2 separate regions of the Homo sapiens genome follow, and region 2 is linked to region 1. The links come from fine-mapping of genetic effects on gene expression. A gene starts in region 1. The other region holds a variant in brackets. All regions are shown on one strand. Distances are between the middles of the regions. Region 1 holds the start of HS3ST5 (heparan sulfate-glucosamine 3-sulfotransferase 5). Region 2 overlaps HS3ST5 (heparan sulfate-glucosamine 3-sulfotransferase 5).

What was found. PIP is the estimated chance that this variant, and not a neighbour inherited with it, causes the effect.
Region 2: its variant is fine-mapped to the expression of HS3ST5 in skeletal muscle (FUSION, PIP 0.92).

What each region holds. Positions count from the first base shown.
Region 1 is chr6:114,340,519-114,345,897 of GRCh38, forward strand. HS3ST5 (heparan sulfate-glucosamine 3-sulfotransferase 5) reads right to left here and starts at 2,505. Exons shown (of 5, transcript NM_153612.4): 1 at 1,677-2,505. It overlaps HDAC2-AS2 (HDAC2 and HS3ST5 antisense RNA 2), which reads left to right. Exons shown (of 10, transcript NR_125845.1): 10 at 4-211. LOC107986638 (a long non-coding RNA gene) reads left to right here and starts at 1,807. Exons shown (of 8, transcript XR_002956366.2): 1 at 1,807-1,871.
Region 2 is chr6:114,113,241-114,118,619 of GRCh38, forward strand. All of the region lies in intron 3 of HS3ST5 (heparan sulfate-glucosamine 3-sulfotransferase 5), which reads right to left. It overlaps HDAC2-AS2 (HDAC2 and HS3ST5 antisense RNA 2), which reads left to right. Exons shown (of 10, transcript NR_125845.1): 6 at 2,878-2,940. Among named protein-coding and RNA genes, the nearest start is that of HDAC2, 140 kb to the left of the region's middle. The variant T/A (reference allele first, on the strand shown) is at 2,673.

The sequences.
Region 1 (5,379 bases):
CAGTTCACTGGTGAATAACTTCATATTCCTGAAGTTAAGAAGCCTGCCCTGATGCTCATGCAGTTACTTTGAGCAATGACCAAACAGAGAGAGGAAGGTAAGTAGTATTGTTTTCATTTCTTTAAAAACTTCACTAGGAGGAAACCCCAAGGTAACAATGACAACAACAAAAATCTATTGCAACATAATTGATAGCAATAAAACCTTTTTTAAAAAATAATCATTTTTGATATTCATATTTGTAATCCCCTTTTATTATCTTCAACTTTTTCTTGAAAAGACCTTAATATATTTGAAATAAATTATAATGTGTAATTTGTCTAAAGCTCTGAAATATGTAGAAACTACTAAGTAAAACCTTTGAGAAGCACCAGCTGTTTATTACTTCTAGCAAATCAGTTTAGAAAGGAGCATTAGCACAGAAAGAAGGCCCACCCACCCACTTTCGCCCCCACCCAACCCGACCCTGCATGCTATTTATCAGACCAAGTTTACATAAATCAGAGAAGAGTTACAGTGCTATTAAATGTATCCACGAAGTAATATGACATAAAGCACTTTGCAAATATTAAATCTCTCCCCAGTGTTTTCTAAGAAGAAACTGGTATTCGTATTCGGAGACAGAGAGGAGAGGGGGAGAGAGGGGAGGGAGGGAGGGAGAGGGAGAGGGAGAGGGAGAGGGAGAGGGAATAGGGAGAGAGGGGGAGAGAGAGAGAGAGAGAGAGAGAGAGAGAGAGAGAGAGTGAGTCCCACCGGGTGAAGACAGGGTAGACCACGAATGTGAGCATCAGCTCCCTTGGGTGGGTGCCCTGAAGCACTGAAGTAGGGAAGCGGAAGAGTAGAGGAAACCCACCAAGGTGAAGTGACTCCGGAGTTGTTTGTTTGCTGGGCGCTTGGAACCTCCAGGTAAAGACATCCACCTTAAGCTGGACGCTCCTTGCAGGTTGCCCTAAACCAAGGTGGTCGCCCAAGTAACAGGAGCAGGAGTCTCAGCGCTCCAGTGAGTAGCGACAGCGACCTCTCAGACTTGTTTGTAGTAACAGTATGACCACCCTTCGACTGCATCCATCCCGCGCGCGCGCGCGCGTGTGTGTTGGGTGGGAAGAGATGCATAAAGTGGGGCTGTGAGGGGTGTGGGGGGGGCCAGCTGGGAAGAGAAAACCCCACCCACATGTTAACTTAGCCTTTGCCTGTTCTTTGCCTGCCCTCTGCCTGTCCTCTGCTGGGGCCTCGCAGGCCCCCACTGTCCCAAAGCTGCCCTCGCGCTCCAAACAGCTCCACAGCCACCCCAGAAGTGACCGAACGCGAACCCCTAAACTCTGGCGAGCGCAGTAAACGCGTGTTCCCTTTCTCCCTCAAAGAGAGCGCTACCCAGCGCTCTGGGAGAGACTGAGAGAGAAACAGACAGGCAGGCTGACTGACACCTTCTGTCTAATTTTACCCCAGGAATTGCCCCCGCCGTTTCTCATCTCGCACTAGTTTAACCTCTGGTCCTAAGCAAACCTCTCAAAAGTCTTCCCCAGGCAGCGCCCAGGAGAACCGAACCCCACAAAGTGCTTTTTTGCTGGCATCACCCGGATGCTTCCCTTTGGCGATTTGCCCCTTCTCATTTCCCCCCAAATCTAGAGGTCTCAAAGCCCCTCCCCCGCGCGAGGCGGGCAGCGCGCCTTGCTCACCGTGGTCCCCGGCGGTGGCGGCGCGGGCGGGAGCCTCAGGGCGCGGGGGTCGGCGGCGGGTCGCGTGGGGGTCACCCGGCCGCTGCTGCGGTCCGGACGGCAGTTGGTCCAGTAGTTTCGGATGCCCGGGCTAGGCTCGGCGGAGAGCGAGTCGGCGTGAATGAGAGCAAACCAACAGGGCTGTGCGTGGCGCGTGTGAGTAAGACGCGAGCGGGCCCCACACGCAGGCGGCGGCGGCGGCGGCGGCGGCGGCGAGGTCTGAGGCGGGGAGCCGGGCGGGGGGGCAGGCGGGCGAGAAGTAGTGGAGTTTAGGGCGCGTTTCCTGCACTTCCCCGAGAGGCTGGAACCAGGTGCGGCAGGGCGCGCTCCCGTGGCGCGGGCACGGCACGGGCGGCCGCAGGAGCCGGAGTCCGCGCAGTGCCGGAGACCGCAGCCGCTCTGCGGGGGGAGGTGCGCATCCTCCTTGCCCCACGAGGGCACCGGCGCAGCCCCGGACCCTGCGCGCAGAGGGCGAGACTTCGGGCGTCCTCGGTGACAGCTCCTCGGGCAGCCCGCTCCCTCCCAATCCGCCCAAAAGAGCAACACTCAGTGTGACTGGGATCTTCCCTTCCTGCGTCCTCGAGCCTCCGGTGCCAAGCTGTGCGGGCGCCCCGCTCCCCGCGGCTGGCGCTGTCACGGCCGCCGCCCGGCCCCCAGAGCGCCCGAGCCGGCAGCTGCCTCCCGGAGACGTGCCCAGCTGTGTGCGCGTGTGTGTGTCTAAGCGAATCTCTTCCCCTCCATCACTTGGGCGCGCAGGAGGGACCGGGTCCCTGGCGACCAGCTGCAGAGTGGCTGCCAGTCCACACCCTCCCGGCTCTCTCCCCACCCACCCCGCCCCTACTCCTCCTCGCCTTCCCCTCCTCCCCGTGCTCCTCCTCCAGCTGCCGCTCCCGAGCTCCCAAAGGCAGCGGAGAAACCGCAGCGAAAGGGAGGAGGAGGAGGGTGGGGAAGGAAGCGCAGGTGTCTTCGGCGGAGAGACGGGCGCACGCACCGGAGCGGCTTGCTGCAGGGGGAGGGCAGGGCCTTAGGCGGAGAAAGGGGAGGAGGAGGATTTACCCGGAGGCGGAGGTCCCGCAGCTGAGCCACTGCGCGTCCCACCCAGGCGCTGGAACCGCGGGCGAGCAGCGCAGTGGGGCTGCCGGGTGGGCGCGCAGGGCTCCCAGTTGGACTGAGGTCGCAGCTTGGGGAACCTGCGGAGGTGACCAGGGTGGCAGAACTCGGGGACACAGAGGTCGGAGGGACCCAATTGCTGAGGCGCTGAGACCGGTCTCTCTGGGGTGAGGGGGATGCCTAGACCCAGAGCTTGGGGCACACAGGTGTCCAGGAAGCTGGTGTGTGTGGCTCCAGAGTGCCAGGCGGGAGAGCCGGAGGCGGTGAAGGGTCGGGCGGCGGCCGCGGCGTGCTTGGGGCTGCTGTGTGCATCCGGAGTCACAGGGGGCGATCACCGCCTAGCTGGGAAGCGGAGCTCAGGACTCAGCCTTCTTTCAGGTCCCAAGTCCAAAAGCCGAGAGGCACACTAGCCTTCCCAATTTAGTCTGTGTTCCTCCAACCCTTTGCCCCCAGCAAAACAACAGGCCAGGAGCTGATTCTACCTGCTACTTACTGTGCTCTTTACCGGACTGAAAGGACTCTACTGCTCCAAGGAGACTGATGTGTTGCTTCCTCTCTCCCAACTCTAGTCCCCTCCCTCAACATACATTCCTACCCAACCAAAATTATCCAGAACATTGTATTTCTCATTGATAAACTTTTTCCCTCTGGGGTTCCCTAAAAATGAAAATCTTTCCTCCCTTTTTATCTGTAGAGGCATTAAGTCTCTTGCTTACATTTCATAGTACAAATGCAGTACACAGAAAAGTCCTTTAGGCAAGAAATCACAGCATTATTGCTTATGACGGCTTGTCTGTTTTCAAATGACAGTCGCAGAATGCAAATTTGTGTCAACCTGAGGTCAGTGGAGAGAGTTGGTCCATTTAATTAGAGGTATTTTGGAAGGAATCTGGGAAACAACACTAGAAAGAATTGCTGTACTTTCTCCAGTACCCATTCCTTTTTATTATGGTAATTTCACTCTGTTAATTTAGGCAATCTGAAAATGAAAGGTCGGATGCAATTTACAAGGCACAATATTTCTAGATTCTCATTCAACAGCCCGCCCCACCTCCTTCCTCCCACCACTCTTACCATCACCTCAAAAGGTCATGAGCTAAGAACCGAAACTGCACTTTTTAAATCTCAGGATATAGCCTGAATGACAAAGCTGTTGAGTTTTAGAAAGAGACCAGTTAAGTCTAAACTTATTTACCAACTACTCAGACAAAATCATATGCTCAGCAGCAACAATAAAATGTATACTGTGTAATATATTGAGCAGGAGGAAAGATGGCTGTTTGCCAGATATGTGATCCATTAACCTCTTTAGCTCATTGTTGGCAACAATAGCATACAATCACATTCCTATGTTTGAAAGACAAGAGATTTTTTTTTCCCATCTTAAAATCACAATGCCACATTATAGTCTAAAAGAAACCTCAAACAATAAAAGTAATAAGAAAGGAAGAAACATGGTTTGTTTTTTTTCTGAACAAATGTTGCTGTTCTGTTTTTTTTTCTTGAGGGGAAAAATGCTGATAAGCAATAAAGTCCACAAAAGCATGACAATAGATTTTGAAGAATGCATCACTCCATCTATTAGTCCTTTCAATTAGTAAACTTTATTTAAAAGGTTTATTTATATTATCTTTTGATTGGTATTCAGTCTTTCTTTTGTGCCTGGAAGATGACTGAGAAGGAGGATGGGTGAGCTGAATCTGGTTTCTCATAATTCTGTCTTGCATCAGGTTTATGTCTGGCAGGAGAGGAATGCTCAGCAGCCTGTGCTTTCTCAGCAATCCTAACTTCTCCTCAGAGGATCCTTTGCTCTGTAGCTGATGGATTGTGAGATTGTCACAGTAATTTTGCCTACCTGCTACAGGGTCACACCTGGGGTTGGGAGCAGGTACGGTTCCAAAAACTGGGATGCAATGCTCTGGAAAGAGCTTTTACCTTGCCCAGGGTTGGAGGATTAGATGAAGGTGCATGAGCTTTTTTGTGTTGCTTTTCAACTTCTACAGATGACCTGGATTTTCTGCTAGGTGAAGTGTGGAGGTGGGTGGGTGTGGTCTAACATTTTAAGAAACATTTTGGTATTGTGGTAAATTAAACAAATAAAACTAAACACTAGACATAATGGTACACCCAAAAAATCTATTTGAAATACAGTTTTGAAAACAGTCACAGATTTATTGGTTTAGCTTAGTCATCTATGCCAAATAAAGTACACAGCAATGAAAACATTTGGTTAATTAGAGTGTTCATTTGGTAAAGAATATATTTTTTTTCCTGAACATCAGCATACTCTCTTGTCTCATAAAGATGTAACCATTAAATATTATTTGGGCCAGTGATGCTAGCTTATGTCTATAATCCCAGCAATTTGGGAGGAGAAGGTGGAAGGATCACTTGAGGCCAAGAGTTTGAGATCAGCCTGGGCAACATAACGAGACCCCTTCTCCACAAAAAATTAGAAAAAAAAAAAAAATTAGCTGGGCAGGGTAGTGTATGCCTGTAGTCTCACCCACTCTGGAGGCTGAGCCAGGAGGATCCCTTGAGCCCAGGAGTTTGA
Region 2 (5,379 bases), 230 kb before region 1:
GGCCTTAGTAATTTTTTCTAAAGTGTAGATTAAACTATTTCTTCACCCATAATCTTCAAAATTATCTCCACTGCAACCAGTAAAAAATCTAAACTCTAGCATGCGCTACGAAAATATATGTAACTGGACACCTGTTTACTCCAGCCTTATTACAACTTTTCCCTTCATTTACTCCAGTCACACTGGCCCCCTTTCTCTCCCTCACATTAAACAGGCTTGTTTCCACCCAGGAGAGTTGTATTTGCTATTCCTTCTGCTTGGAATGATCTTCCTCTCCTTCAATGGATGGCTGCCTTCTTTCCATTGATGTTTCAATTCGAGTGTCACCTCTTCTAAGAAGACTTCATTAATGCTAGCCAAGCAAGCCTAAAGTTGATCTATTAAATTACTCATAGCGTATATCAGTATCCAAACTCTCACTGATCCATTAGCTAAAACACCATCCATTTATTATCTGCCTGCCCCCACCAGAATGCCTGGCATATAGTGTTTCAATAATTTTTTTAATGACTACTCTTACGCTAGTCTATAAGTTAACACTCCAGAGTTAACTTGGTTGAAGAAAGATTTGGGCAAGATAACTGTCAAAGTCTTTTTTTTTTATGTGATCATTTACTTGTCCTTGGAAGTAGTATGAAAGTAGGATGCCTGTGTATCATTACATTGTTATCATTAGAAATCAGGCTGGCCAGCTGCAGTACCTACCCATCTTTCTTTGTTTCTACTTTGATTCTGTGACAGGATTAGTGACAGTGATAATTACCTCAAATGAATAGTTTATACCTAACTGAGAGTGCTTATATTTTAATTTTTGTTCTGCCATTACAATGACAAGTTGTGGGCTTTCTCTGCATTTGTTACACATGCATTGCTTTGGTTTCTGAGACTAAAATGGAATAACCTGGGTGGTGGAAACAATTTATAGTTCTTTAAACCACTATAGTGCCAAACATGTAGCAGGTTCTCTATGACTAGTTTGACTCACTGATGTATTTTCTATGGAGTCACAAATATTTCTTGCCTCACTGAGGCCTTCCTTTCCTCCATGCCTAGCAATGCACTCACCTTCTACTTTATCCATTGTGCTGTTACTTTTAAGTGTTAGCAGTAAGTGGAGGAATAATCCCTCCCATTTCTGATTTACAGAATAGGATGTTACTAAAGTTTTCTTGATGGTAATGACATAAGAACTCTCAGAACTTTTCAACAGAGTCTTAGCTACTGAAGATCCAATAGGATCATATAATTATGTGATCTCTTACAGCATGATTTGCAAAAACAGGAATGCTGGGAGGCCTCAGTCATTGGCAATATAGAGTCACACATTTTTCCTACTTACAAAACTGCTCTTTAAAATCTGATTATGTGCAGATATTAGGTCTATTTTGTTATTATTACACATATGTTTTTATGATTGGCACAATATTTATGTTTTGATTTTTCCTTTCTTGACTAAATTAATCATAGTATAATATCTAAATGAAGCAATATATATTACTTAGAGGACAAAAATATTTAAAGAAAATGCTGCAGTTGAAACTGCAAGTTACTTTTTAAAAAAATCGTATTGATCAGTTGCTTTGCTGTAATTTAGACTCAGTCATAGGAAAATGCACTCTTTTTGTGTTAAAAGGTTATGTGAACACAAAGGTTATGTGATTTCATTAATTCACTCAGCAAATCACCTTTGATATTATCTTCATAAGCTTTATAAATGCAAGGACAGTGTTCATATGGTTCAGTATTTTTTCTGCAGCGACCAGAGTCCTGGTCCCGAAATCAAGTGCATAAATGCTATGTACAATGTGGAATCTCAGTAATTCCCAGTTGGCAAATTATGAGGATAATAATAAAACCTATATGAGGATATATTTTATTTTTTATGCCATCCCATATATTTCTGTCTCACATGAAAAAGGCATGAAAGTAACACATGAATTTTAGAGTGGTTGATGGTGGTTGAAGGGTATGTTCATTTTCCTGAAGATAATTTTTTTTAATTCTGATTTTCTAAGAAAACTATAAAAGTCTCTCATAGACACATTTACAAACAAGAAACAATGGCATTTAGTTGAATTTTGGGGAATAAGTTTTTGCAGCAAGTATGTCTAGCATGAAGTTAGCAGTCTCAGAACCTTTTGGCTAAATTACATGAGTCTCTTTCTCTTAAAAAGCTAACCAAGTCTCTGTTAGCTTGGTCTAGTCCTGCTATAAAGAAAAGAATAATGTCACATATCTGTCCTATCATTATAACAATGACATAGTGTTAACCTCTTATGGAAGGGGAAAGAAGCATAGATGCCAGATTGAATCCCACTGGCCCGAAAATCTTGCTCTTTCCCTTATACACAATCCCTCCACAAATGCAAAAAACATGGCTAACTTGCTGTGATCCTTCCCCACATTATTTCAAATGTCCAGAAAGACACTAAATAAAATCAGAAGTTGAACTATTTGAAGGAAGTTCTCTTTCTTTTTATTTTTTGTTTGAAATCCTGTTTAGCATCCAAGCAGGCTTCTATGATTGACGGTGGTAAATGACAGATAGAGTTCAATACAGTTCTGTGGTGAAGGGTAAGTATTTTAGTGTCTCTGTGGCCTGATCCAAAGGCTATTCCTAGCAGTTTGTCATTTAGTACAGAGAAGGTTAGTGAGGTCATGTTGATATATGA[T/A]CTTTTATGCCCTGAACTTATCACTGCAGTTGAACTGGCCCTATAATTCTCATTAACAATGAGCAGTTATTTTTTGATACTAAAGCATAAAATAAAACAATTTTTTTTGCTCTATTCTCCAAACTACAATATAAAGAAAAGGCACTGCTTGAAGTTTAAAGTATTCCACCAGAGAAATTTAGGGTATCTTTATTTTTACCCACAGGAGTAAAAAGACTTTGGCGTTCTCAGAAGAAAACCAAATGAGATCACACGAATGAGACTGCTGGTAAGAACTGTCTAAATGTTAACATCACCATGATAAATATCTGTTTTTAATGGAGAATGAGATTACCTTTAAAGATATTCTAGCATCTCAGCATATATTCCAAAAGGAATACAATTCTCTAAAGGAAAAAAATGCCAAAGAGATGGGAAGGCAATGTGGGATGGGAGAAAGAAATGCCAGCCTAAGAATTAGGAGACCCCAGTTCTAGTTTGCCTAGGTTATGGGCTAAATGATGTGCAGCAAAGACCATAACCTCTCTTTACCTGGTCTTTTCTTGCTTGGATTTTACTAACAGCCTGAAGTGTTTTTGAGTCAGCTGACAAACTTACTAGGTCTCCAAATCCATTTACCCCACAGACCTTTCTATTTTTATAAGTTTCAGCAGTATCTCCAAGAGCATTAAGAATAAAGTTAAATTTCTTAGCAGGCCATAGATATCTTTCAAGGTTTAACCCTTGCTTACCTTTTACTTTGCCCTTCGCCTTCCACTTCCCACCTCCTTCCCCATCCTCTTGCCATCCAGAACTAATGGAACTTCTGCCCTAACAGCTAGATCTCCATTTTCCCCCACCACTGACCTAACTCTTACTTAATGAGTTTAAGTAATGGCTTACTTCACCTTAATTGCTGCCCTTCCTTTTGGGTTTGGTGCCATCCTTTGTTACATTTTAGCACTTACTGTATTATAATAATCTGTTTACTTATTTGTTCTCCCCCTCCCTTCATCCATTAGACTAACGCTTCTTGGCAAAGGGTAGTAACTGAATAATGAATGCATGAAAATCAACTCTCCTTATTCCTATTATTATAGGGGAAGGGGAGATGGAAGTTGAGTCATTGGCTAATATCATCATCAAGAAATCAAGTCATCATTTTTACCAGGAATTCAAAATTCCTCCCCCTCCCCATTCCGGCTGAATCCTCTGGTGGAAAATAACTAATTAATTAACTGAATTAATTTTAATTCATTAGAATACTAAAATTAATGTTGAAGAAATAGCTCATTCCTTTTACTTTCTAGGCAAAATATCTTGAATTTGACTGCAAATAATAAGTTCCTTTGGGCTAATTTTTCATTCAACCCTGTCTTGGCTCCATGTGATCATGGTTTATATCTGGGCATCACTTATCTCTGCTAGAAAACACAGAGGTAGCCTGGAATAATGGAACAAAATATTTCTCCACGCAAAATCAGAAAATATGGGTTTGAATTTGTCATTTCTTAGTGTGGTGACATTGGGCAACATATGGAATCTTTTGAACCTCAGTCTTCTCTTCTGTAAATTAGGGTAATACCCAGCTTACAAAGTTATGGCAAGTCTCAGGTAAAATGATCCATGATGTGAAAGCACTTCAAAAGAGTTAAATGCTAAACAAGTATGCTATTACTCTAACCCTAAACCCAAACTGTCAGTATTGTTTATAAATTGGCCATCCAATCTAACTTCTTCCTAGAGATACTATACCAGGCAAAAAAGACCAATTTGAATTTTATCTCCTCTGCCAAGTAAAAAGAAACCAGAAAAATGCCTAAAGGAGGAAGATCAGTGCATCAAGCAGGCCAGATATAATCCACAACGTAGATTACTGACTTAGGCTAATTGGGAATTCAGAAATAGACATCTCTGCCCTGTATAACTACCCCTTCCCTCAAATATTCACTCCCTATCCAGACATCTACCTCTAGGAGTGGCACTGTGGGCAACGTAGGGAATTCAGAGTGCAACAAATGTCTCTATAGTGTCTCATATTCTGAAAATGCCTTTGCAATCAATTCTATATATTATGCTTCACAAGGACCTAGAGAGGTATGTTAATATTATCCTTGGATCAGAAAAAGAAGACACCTAGCAATTAAGTGATTTGCCTCACATCATAAAGGGAATTAATGCCGACACCAACATTCAAAGAGGCCTTCTTTGCATAGCAAGGAGAACTCCTTTATTTCTCCAGTTGTAAATTATCCACATTATGACCAGATTTACCAGTCCTCAAGGCAGATGACCTTGAGGTACCATTGAGATTCTGAGGGGGCATGTATGGACATCTATACAATTATTGCCAGCTTAGCCACTTCCACATAAGTCACAGCTAGGTATAATTTTCAGCGGAAAAAAAATGGCATATAGAAAGGAGCCACTGATCTATATATAGTCAGGCAGGTAATACAAAGAAGAGACACAAGGGCAAATCTGTGTTTTGTCTTTAAGAGTCTGATGTTCTTTCTTGGAGACCAGTGATTCTCAAACACTTTATGTATTTCTTAAGGATGGGAGTTAACTGCATTATAAACAATCTATATATAAGAAAGCAATTATATGGGGTTATTACCATTATTTACCATTATCTTGACTACCTATTCTCATTTCTCTACTCAAGAATATATAGTGAACAAATAAAGTAAATTTGAAAGTTTAAAACATGGAAGTAAATATGAGC